Linked DNA regions of Homo sapiens: region 1 is linked to region 2. Evidence: fine-mapped expression QTL. A gene starts in region 2. The other region holds a variant in brackets. All regions are shown on one strand. Distances are from middle to middle.

Region 1 (5,377 bases), 380 kb after region 2:
TGGATACAGAAGTTAGCCTGGTGAAGCAAGGGGGGCACAATGAAGGAAAAGTGTCCTCAGCCCAGGGATCTCCTGTTTCAGGGCTGGATACGAGAAAGGAGGCCAGTGTGGTACACTGAAGAGACTTAAATAACTAAGTAAAGCAAGTATGTGGGGTTGGAGGCGGAGGAATGTCAGGAATGAGATGGAGGCAGGGGCCGCATAGTGAGTAGTGCTTTAAAATTCATGTTAGGGAGTTTGGTTTTTATCCAAAGGGCAATGAGAAGAAAAACAAAAACAAAAACAAAGATTTTAAGCAGGCGCCACAGGATCAGGCTTGCATTTGAAAATGCTCTCCAGCTCTTGCCCTGTCAAGAATGGATTAGAGGGAAACAATACTGGGTGCAAGGAGAATGTCAAGGTAGGAGAGAGTGGGGCACATTTAAGGGTCCTATGGTAGAGATGCTGACGTGGCTGATCTAGGGTAGTGTCATGGGGTGGAGGTAAACGGAAACGTTCCAGAGAAATGTAAGAGGTAAAAACTATAGAACCTGGTAATTGATTGGCTGTAGAAGATTAAGGCCAAAAGGGAGCATGTTTGCAAGGACAGAGAGTTTGGACACTTTGAACGGAAGCACCTTAGGTAACATCAGTTCTGCCATGTAAGTTGGTGCAATGTTTTCTGTTTTAGATGAAGAAACATGTTTAGTCAGGTAACTTGTCCAAAGACAAACAGCTGGAAGATGGCAGAGTTAAAGCTGGATTTCATTTAGGTCTTACTCAAAAAACTTTGCACTTTTCCCATGAGTGGCTGGTCCTGGCACCTCAGGGCATGTCCAGAACCCTCCTAGCATCTGCAGGGCTGAGGATGCCTAGGCTTCTCTCTCTACCACCGGGACACTCGGATCTGCCTCCTTTAGGCAAGGTTATTGCAATGGTAATTGTGGTTTTTGCCATTAAAAGTAAAGCAAAAACTGCAATTACTTTTGCACCAACCTAATAAAACCACTGGGCTCAGTGCTTCTATTTGCATCGCCATCTCTAGAAAAATGAAACTCAAGTGCCAGACAAGTCATTTACAATCAAATGCTTTTGGAACACAACTTGTCTGAACATTGGGAACAGCATGTACTCTTAGGGTCAGAGCTCTGTTCAGACTCTTCCTCTTGGCCATACAGAAGAGCATTAGCAACTTCTTAAAATGGTTCTTGACATCCAGAAAGCATTACACACCTTCTTGTTGAATCACTGCTGGGATAAATAATTTTCTTTCATAAATAAGTTTGACACATGTACTGAGTACACTTGGTTTTTACTCTGTAATGCCAGAAGTTTCTAAGTGCCATAACAAGGCTTTGTGACTTATTTAATAGAACTTATTAAAATTCAACTTAAAATGGCATTATTTTTTCAGAGGCCCTTATTACACAATTCTTTATCTTGAATGGGAACAATTAAACTAACACGGTTGTTGTTAAACAGCCAAGCAGGGCTGAACAATTAATTATTTCAATCTGAATCCACTAAACTCTGAATTAGTAAAGAACTCATTAGAACCGCTGCCTTTACCCAGTTCTGGTCTCCTTTGCTTTTATCTGTATAGGTACATTTTCTTATTTTAAAAAATAGGAAATGTCATCCTTTGCTGTGCTTGTTACCCTTGAATGAGAAGTGCTCAACTTCAAAATGGATCATTCACTGATACCATGATGACCAATTAACATCACTGGCCACCAAAGAGCTGTGGAAGAAATCTCACTGCAGAGCTGACTTCTATCCCTCCCGACGGTACATGACCCTCCTTTATTTCGACTCAGCTGTCACCTAAGCCTGTCAGGGATCCAACAGCATATACCGGTCACAGCGCATTGTTGAATAATACTCCTCAGGAAGTGTGCAGATCCACCTTTTCCTTCATCATTTCAGACAGGTGAACCAACTCTTCTTCACTAACTGGAGCCACGAGTCCAGGGCCCTAGATATCAACCTATCAGCACACGTAGTGTACACTTAGTACATGCTAGATTCTTATTGCTCCCTGTCCCCAAGATGCTTATGATTAAACATCAAAGTTACTTTAAAAAATCTAGAATTTGGAAATACTTGGCTTAATTTACAAATTCATTGCCCTTTTAAATGACTTTCCACGCATATGTAGGTTAACACTTCTTTTTGCAGTCGCGTTCCTAAAAGTCTCAGACACCAAGTGAAAGCTGAATGTTAGTAAGTGTCTCAAATTGGTTCTGAAGTTAGAGAAATCTCCAAGCGAGACTATCTAATTAAAAGATGTGCAACTTTTTGGACGTGAAATCCACCTTACTGTTTCCCTGTCTTCTTTTAGCACTTAAGGAGGCTCATTTATTTCTGGTGCTGCACTTGTCAAGATTTGGGGAGAGAATGTGTTTGCATATATGTGTGTGTCCTTGGGTTTGGGGGTGGCGATTCAGGCACGCTGCCAGGGAGATCTGGCTTCCTGCCTTAGACTCTCCTTTACTCCCTAATCATGGTGTAGGCTGTTCATTCCCTAAAATCTCTTTCTCAGCTTTTGTTCCTTGCTTGCCACATTATTGAGAAGGAAAAAAAATGCAGGGGGTGGGGGGTGCATAGGGAATCAGTTGAGACCAAGAGAAAAGAGACAACTACCTAACAGAGGGAAGAAGACGTACTTTTTCCCTAATTTTAGCTTCTTGGGTGCTCACCTCATAGGTGAGGTGGAGCTCTGATTTTCTCCATGTCTGTTTCCTCTTCTTGAACTGAGACAATGGGTCCAATTCAAAGAAACCATCTACTGAGAATAATGGGAA[G/A]GAGGGGCCCCAGGAACAGAGGAGAGGGAGACAGGGACACAGCTCTGTGAATTAATTTTTTAAATAAATACTTACAAAGGCTCCAAACCTCAGGAAATTTAGGCAACAGCTCCTAGTGTTTCTCAATTCATTCATGTGGTCAACATTTACCCAGTAGTTACCATGAACTCACAGTCACTGTAGAATGCACAAAGAACCCCTGCTCTCAGACTTTACAACTGAGCAAGGTGGTGCAACGTGTCATCTGTGAATCAGCTGCTGCAGTACTGCAGGGCTGGGGAAGACCCTGGACAGCGAGGTGATCCGGGAAAGTGGCAGAGGTCTGCAGGGCCAAATTGGGTGAGTGGGCTTTAGACAGCTGAAGAGACAGAGGAAGACATTCTAGCTAGGCCAAGTGAGAGGAATAAAGGGATGAGGTGGAAAAGCCCAAGCTGGGGACAATTTAAATTTGTTTCTAGGATGGAGCATGGGTCCAGAGAAGAAATGGGGGACATGAGTGGAAAGGAAGATGTCCTTCACTTGAGAACAAGTTCAGACTTTATTTGGCACACAACAGGTGATGGCAGCAGGTTGGACATTGGTGCCCAGGGCAGATGTAAGATAAAGTGGGAGGACACCAGCCAGCAATGGCATCACCATAGGGAGAATGGTGACCCACTGAGTGTGGACAGGGTGGAGAGAAAAGAGTTGGTGATGATTTGGGGTACAAGAAAAAAAATTTAATTAAACAATAAAAAAAGACCAACTAGAGTCCTGTGATGTAAAATTAGGAAATTTTTGGATCTGATCCCTATCAGCTGGGATCCAAGAACAGGCTATGGTCATGATAGGGGAATTGGGGACCACAAGCACCAAGGGTCAGGGTGGATGAGGGTCCTGGGGTTGATCCCTACCAACCAATCGCTGCAGGACAGCTCCCGCTAGAGTAAAGCCTGGAGCCAGCCTGGGAAAGGACCCACGGTGACCACCAAAAATCACACTCCCAGACCAGGTCCCCCTGCCATCTGGTATTGCCCATTCCTTCATAGGCCACAGTGGTGTCCTCACTGCTGAATCCTACGATCCCCATTCAGTTCTCATGCTACCTGACATCTCAACATCAAGCATTTCTGCCCCGTCCTTCATCTCAAAACTTTCTGCCCCTTTGACTTCTGTCCCTGTACTCTTACTGTTCTTCCCTGCTTCTGCTGATTGCTCTTAGAAATGCAGACTTCTGGCCAGGCACAGTGGCTCACGCCTGAAATCCCAGCACTTTGGGAGGCCGAGGCAGGTAGATCACGAGGTCAGAAGATCGAGACCACCCTGGATAACATAGTGAAACCCCGTCTCTACTAAAAAAAAAAAATACAAAAAATTAGCCAGGCGTGGTGGCGGGCACCTGTAGTCCCAGCTACTCGAAGGCTGAGGCGGGAGAATGGCATGAACCCAGGAGGCGGAGCTAGCAGTGAGCGGAGATTGCGCCCACCGCACTCCAGCCTGGGTGACAGAGCGAGACTCCGTCTCAAAAAAAAAAAAAAAAAAAAAAAAGAAATGCAGACTTCCCTCCCCCATGCATGGTTCCATTTTCATCTTTACAAATCTCTTGTTGAGGCAGCGGGGAGGTACCTTATGTTTCTATTATTCAAATCACTACAATATACCAGGGTCTCCCAAATATATATTGTTAGCGCAGATCTCCTGACTTAGAACAGTTATTTATTTCCAATTGCTTACAGACATTTCCAAATCGCCTCACACTCCACATGTCTAAAACGAAACTCATTCCTTACCTCTCCTCATCCAACAAACCTGCTTCCTATCTCTGATCCCTCTCTCTTCTTCTAGCCTCACATCCAGTTAAATTTCTGGTTTCATTTCCCTTTGAGGTCTCCCCCAGCTCTTTCGGTTCTGTCTTGACAATTTCATTCCAGGATGACTACAATGGCCTCATAGAGCCTTCCTGGCCCTTGGCCTTTCATGTGTAGCAATTTTTTCCACCGCCATGCCACTGTTTCCAAAACTCAACTGCGATCTTTCATGGCACTGTGAAAAATCCCCTTTCACTTCATAATACCTACAATCTACAGCACAAACATACTTCCACGACCCTGTGCAATTTGACCACAACCAACGGGGCTACCACCATCTTTCCAACTCTTTCTTAGAATTCTATCCTGCATTTTTATTGAACAAGCAACTATTCCCTAACTATGCCATATAGTTTAATGTCTTTGTGCCTTAGCTCACACTGGGAGGGAATGTCCTCCTGGCCCTTTTTTACATCCAAATTTATAAATCCTTTTCTCTTGGAAGAGCTTTCTGACCCTATTAATGAGATCTAACCTGTTTCCTCTAGGTCATCACAGCACTTATTACACTATTATAGTTACATGCATACAGTCAAGTACCACAAAACAATGTTTTGGTCAACAAGGGACCATATATCCGATGGTGGTCCCACAAGATTACAATTCTGTATTTTCACTGCACCTTTTCTATGTTTACACCTGTTGAGATGTGCAAATGCTTATCATTGCTTACAATTGCTAGGATATTCAGTACAATAACATACTGTATAGGTTTATAGCCTAGGAGCAATAGGCCATACCACATAG
Region 2 (5,377 bases):
GTGAGACACAACAACTTTTATTTTACTTCATTTATTACCATCTAATTAAATAAAAACCAGCAACAAATTAAAATCTAAATCACAAAAGTAATTATCCAGTGTATTTCAAGTGCATTTTTCAAATATATAATTCAGATATTCAAGCGTTATTATATAAGCTGAATTCAAATTTCTTTGAATATATTTAAATAACATTTCAAGTATATTTATGGAATGTTAGAAATAGAACAAGCAATATTTGAAACAAAATGTAAACTTTTTAAAGTTCAGACACTTTCAAAGACAGATAAAAGTACCAGGAAGAAATCTACCTTTAAATGATATCTTTGTTAGTGGAAAATGTCTGGAAGTATCCAGAATGGCAATTTAAGTTCTGTTCACCAAATCACAAAACACCAACATCCACACTTTCAAAGACAATGTGAGATCACAATATTTGTTACAAATCAAAATATACATTACAGTTTCTTTCAGATGGCATATCCAAATCGTGTTTACTCACAGACAGATGCACCTAAATCACCAGGATTGCTATAATCCTTTGATAGTTAGGCAGAGTGTTCGTCTCGGTCTGGCGTTACAGCTGGGCTGTTTACGGAGTGTTACGGTGTACTTTTCAAGGGAGATAGGAAATCGTGTGGAAAGAAGTCTTCTAATACTAGTGGCTTTGGGTTTTTCTCCATCCGCTTCCCCTACTTTTTCTCCCCTTGTGGGGGTGGGTGAGATGATGTTTAAATATTGTATTATTATTCCTTTTTAAAGGAAGAGATTGTTTGCACTGCGGAGTGGAATATTAGGAATTGAACAGAAGTTTACACTTAATAAGGACTTTGAGAAGGGTAATAATTTCGGCTCTTGATTAAATCATCCTCTAAAGTTTTTCCAAACTTTTCGGGTTGGTCAGGATCTCTCTTGCCAGTCGCCACGTTTGTTTGGCAGCGTTTTCCAGAGCTGAGTGAGGTTTGCCTTGAAACAGATCTAAGTTCGGTAGAAAGTAGTGGGGACACCGCCGGCACTGCAGGCAGGAGATAAGTTGCAGCAAAATCCCGTTCAGCCGATCACCCAGGCAAGACTCGTCCCAGTCCGACTCTCGGGGATGCTTTTCACACTCGTAGGAAACCAGAGTCTTCATATGGTAATTGTTCAAGGGCTGGCCCGGCAGTTCAAGGTGACGATCCCTTAAGGTTTTGAGGATGGAGAGGCACTTCTTTCTGCAGCCCCCCATCTGCAGTCTGTTCTCTGCCTCCGCGAACTGCAGCACCCAGGCGTCGCTCTCCGCCGAGCTCTGCTTGCCGGCCAAGGAGTGGCACTCCTTGGACAAGAGATTGAAACCTTCCGCCTTGACCTCCGCCACCCGGTTGGGTCCCGGCCAGGGGATGTGGGGAAGTGGCCAGTGGGCAGCACTCCTCGGCCAGATCCCGGTGCATTTAAAGGCCGGCGTGATCTGCACCACGTACCTATCTCGGATTCTCAGTTTCACTTCGCTGGTGTCTGCCACCATCTTTACCACATCCCGGTAGCTACATTTGTCTACCGCTTGAGCCACCAGCGTCTGAAACCTGGACCGGATTTTGCGCGCCGAGAGGTAGCCGGAGGCGGTAATGAATTCCACCCAGAGGGACATGCTCCTCTTGCGCCCGTCGCTCAACTTCAGCACCGCGCAGCCGGGCAGTGAGCCATCGTCCACGAAGTTGAACACCCCCATTTGGTTGAGATAAAGCACCACTTCAAATTCGGTGGGGGAGATGACCTCGAGGCCCTCGTAGCGATTGTCCATCTCGTTGAGAGAGCTGATGAACCGCGGCTCCTGCACTTCCACTTCCTTCAGTACGTCGGAAACTACTTTGCAGACTTCCCGGATAGTTTTGGCAATGGCAGCTTTCCTGGCTTGGCATTTTTCGTTGTAGTATTTATTCAGATGGTAGACCAGCTTGGCCTGGGCCGCAATCATGTTGGGGCAGAGATCCGGATTGTACACCGGAGTCTCGCAGTAAGCTGTGGGATCCAATGCGGCTGCTAGAGCTGGAGCCAACTTCGGTGGAGAAACGGGCCGCAACACTCAGAAATGGATCAAAAATGCCTTTCGGAAGTGCTGCAGCGTTGGTTTCCCTGCTGCTGCTGCTGCTGCTGCTGCTGCTGCTGCTGCTGCTGCTGCTGCTGCTGCTGCTTTTCCCTTCCTTTTATCTTTGAGCCCAGCCGTTCTTAAAGTGAAAGACTGTCCTCCCCCCTCTGCTTGTCTCTCTTCCTCTTTTAAAGAATCCTTGTGTGAGAGAACCGCATGGAGAGATCACCTTCTCAGGAATAAAAAACAAAAGTTGCGCTGAGACCCAGCAAAGCTCTTCCAGTAGTCAAAATAAGCACCCCTTTCCGTATTTATTTGCGCTTTCCCGTAATCATTGTGTGTGCAGCACTGTTAATCAAATGGAGGAAAAGTGTGCTGAGTGTGTGTCCGGGGTGAGTGTGCGTGTGTATATGTCAGAAGAAGCTGCTGTTGGTTTGTCTAAGAGCCCAGATGCACTCGTGTGGAAATTATAAAGGCAGGGCCAGGCAGGCGGGCGGCCAATCGCCACTGGGCTCGTCACGACAGCCTCCTTCAGCTCCAACCCGGCTAATTAATCCCCACTCATGGATATAGGCACACAAACTAAAGGTAGGAGGCTGCTGCCGGCGGAAAACCACTCAGGCCACCTAGACAGTTTGGAAATCAAGAGGAATCTCTCAGCTTTGGTATTACTTGAAGCATATTGACGTTTTGAAAAGACTTGGCAAAGCGGCTCTCTTCTGTGCCGAAAACCTGCTTGTCTTTTACCGCTGAAATGCAAATACAGGTGTATTAATGGGCATCCATCAATTAGTGATCTTGACGGGGTTTTCTAAAACAAAATCACTAACTTGCATTTAGAGTAAGATAATTAACGTCTGTTAATCCTTGGGGTCTTCTTAAATGCAGGTTGAAAGTTTGTTCTTTCATGCAGACTACTGGCATATGGAAGTTGGCTTTAGATGGAGGAGTACCTGTGTAATTTTCTCATTCTGGATGTTCCTATATGTTAAAATGATTTTTTGAAACGTTATGGAGGTAGTATGCTCTTTTTTTACTTATGTTTTTTTCTTTTCTCCATTTGTTGAATCTGAAAATTATTGCTGAGTGTGTGAGATGTTCTACCCCTGTTTAAGTTAGGATATTTAAAAAATATTTCGTACATCCCTCTGCCCCAGCAGATGCAGTCTTTGCACTTTGGTGGACTTGCCCAGCATTACAAGCAGGACACAACGCTATATATGCACTTATAGAAACATTTGAAAAATAAATTGTCTGTGGGATGGACAGAGTACTTTAGCGTTATTTCATAGTGACCTGTATTTTAGTACATAAAATTCAGGTGAGATCATAGAGATCAAGCTTCCTCACAGATAACTATCCCGAAAAATTGAAGGTTTGGGGTATCTGGCTTGTTTACAGATGTATAATTAAGGATATATCTCCTGTCTTAAGTGTCCTTAAGTGGTGACCTGGCAGTAGACTTCTAATTTTATACTATTTCGTGTGATTTAATTAAGGGAAAATGGTTAACATTTGCAAAGAAAATTAACTTGCAGTTATCTGGGGGGTTTTTTGGATTTAAACATCATTTTGAAAACAAAAATGAAATAAATCATTTCATTTCTGAATTTTGGAACCTGGAAACAGGAGGAGGAATTTTTTTTTCTAGTTGGTGGTCCAGTTGTGTCCTCAAAGTACAGGAAACTAAAGAAATACTACTTAGTGGTTACGTTGTGGTTTTTAAAACTAGGTGGATTTTTTTAATTGTCTACCTTTAATTTAGATGCCACGTCTTTCCAATTAAGAATATTTCCCGTCAAATCCTATAACTCCCGGTAACATGTTTGTAGACACTTTCAGAGTCACTTTTAACAAGATATTCTTCAGGGCTCCCACTTGCTACTTAAGCTTTTGATTTTTGTTTGTGTGTTTTGTTTTGCACAGGCACAGCATCACAAAACCACCTATTATTTAATTTCTCCTTATCCAACAGTGATAGATTCCAATTTAGCTGAAAATAGTATACATTGGGGTGCGTGGCACCCAGCTACTCTATTTCCCAAGAACCTTCCATCCCCTTAAGAGCAGGGTCTGGGAACACCCAAAAAACCCCTCCCCACTTTGCCGTCATCGCGGGTGAATGCACCACTACCTTTTGGCAGTTGGAGGGGAGACCCATCAGAGCCGGAGAACCTGCAGCCACGACGGCGAGGATGTGCAGTGGTCTCTGGGGAAACGCCGCCTTCTGCCCTCACCCGGCGCGTGTGGCCCTGTGCCGTCCGCTCGCCGCCTCTCTCTCGCTGCTCCGCATTCCCGTGCCCTCTTACTTTCCTCTCTGGGCTCAAGATCGCTACGCTTTATTTCTGCGTGAGCTTATTTGAAAACCTTACTTGGTGTCCCGGCTTACTCTCCACGTCTGCTCCAGACCACGGTCTGCCCACGCACCCCTCAGCCTGCACCGCCCACGTCCGGCCCAGGTGTGGTCGCAGCCAAGCCCCAGCCGCGGGCCCCTGCGCCCTGCGCTCTCTCCCTTGGGTTCAGGCCAGAGATGCTTGCCCCAAGACCTCGCCCCTTGCCTTCTTGGGCCACCTGCAGAACACCCTTGGTTGTCAAGGACGTGAGACAGCCGAGGACGGGGAGGCCCCAGGGCTGTTCGGGGGACCTTAAGTGGGTCCAACGGGAAGGACGCGGGCCTGCGAGGGATGCCGGTCGGGCCTGGCTGGAGCCAGGCGCGCAGGTGGCGCATCTTCGGGGCTCACTGTGCAGCTTAATTGGGTTAAAGCGAAGCTAAACACCGAAGCACTTTGTGCAAACTAATTGGTGCAACCAGCGCCTTTTCACTAACGATTTGCACTTTGAGAAAGAAAAATGGATGGTGAGAAAAGGTATACTAGGAAACTCATTAGATCTAGAGTGTTCAGGAAAGTGAAGTCATTTAGTTTAAAGGACGCCAGGACTGTGTTTTCTAAGCTGCTTCCTTAAGCACCCCTCACACAAGGAGCTGAAGGTGATTTACATAACATAGGATTCACCGGTCCGCGATTATCACTGTGGGTGAACTGGGCGCCCTGGAATGAATAATACTCTAGTGCAAGTACTGCTTGTTGCTGCAACACAGTGATTTTCTATTACACTGAACACGTGAAATGAATTGCCTTCTGTAGCTGAATCCTTTCAGTGATCGTAGACGCCCCTCATTGTTGAAGCGAGAATTAAGCTATTCGGAGAAGCGTGTTTTCCATCCCCGAAATTTTTTTATGGAAATGACCTATAGAGAGGGATTGCAAATAACAGTACATTTTTGTGCAGTTCAGCCGATTTTAATCTAGGCTT

The links.
Region 1: its variant is fine-mapped to the expression of MAB21L1 in tibial nerve (GTEx, PIP 0.90).

Annotation. Positions count from the first base shown.
Region 1 is chr13:35,857,747-35,863,123 of GRCh38, forward strand. All of the region lies in intron 5 of DCLK1 (doublecortin like kinase 1), which reads right to left. LOC105370163 (a long non-coding RNA gene) reads left to right here and starts at 319. Exons shown (of 3, transcript XR_941855.3): 1 at 319-400. RefSeq lists enhancers at 1-269, 812-1,351. The variant G/A (reference allele first, on the strand shown) is at 2,784.
Region 2 is chr13:35,474,188-35,479,564 of GRCh38, forward strand. It overlaps MAB21L1 (mab-21 like 1), which reads right to left and starts at 2,502. Exons shown (of 1, transcript NM_005584.5): 1 at 1-2,502. The coding sequence starts at 1,951. The coding sequence ends at 872. All of the region lies in intron 41 of NBEA (neurobeachin), which reads left to right. RefSeq lists enhancers at 1,078-2,074, 4,588-5,377.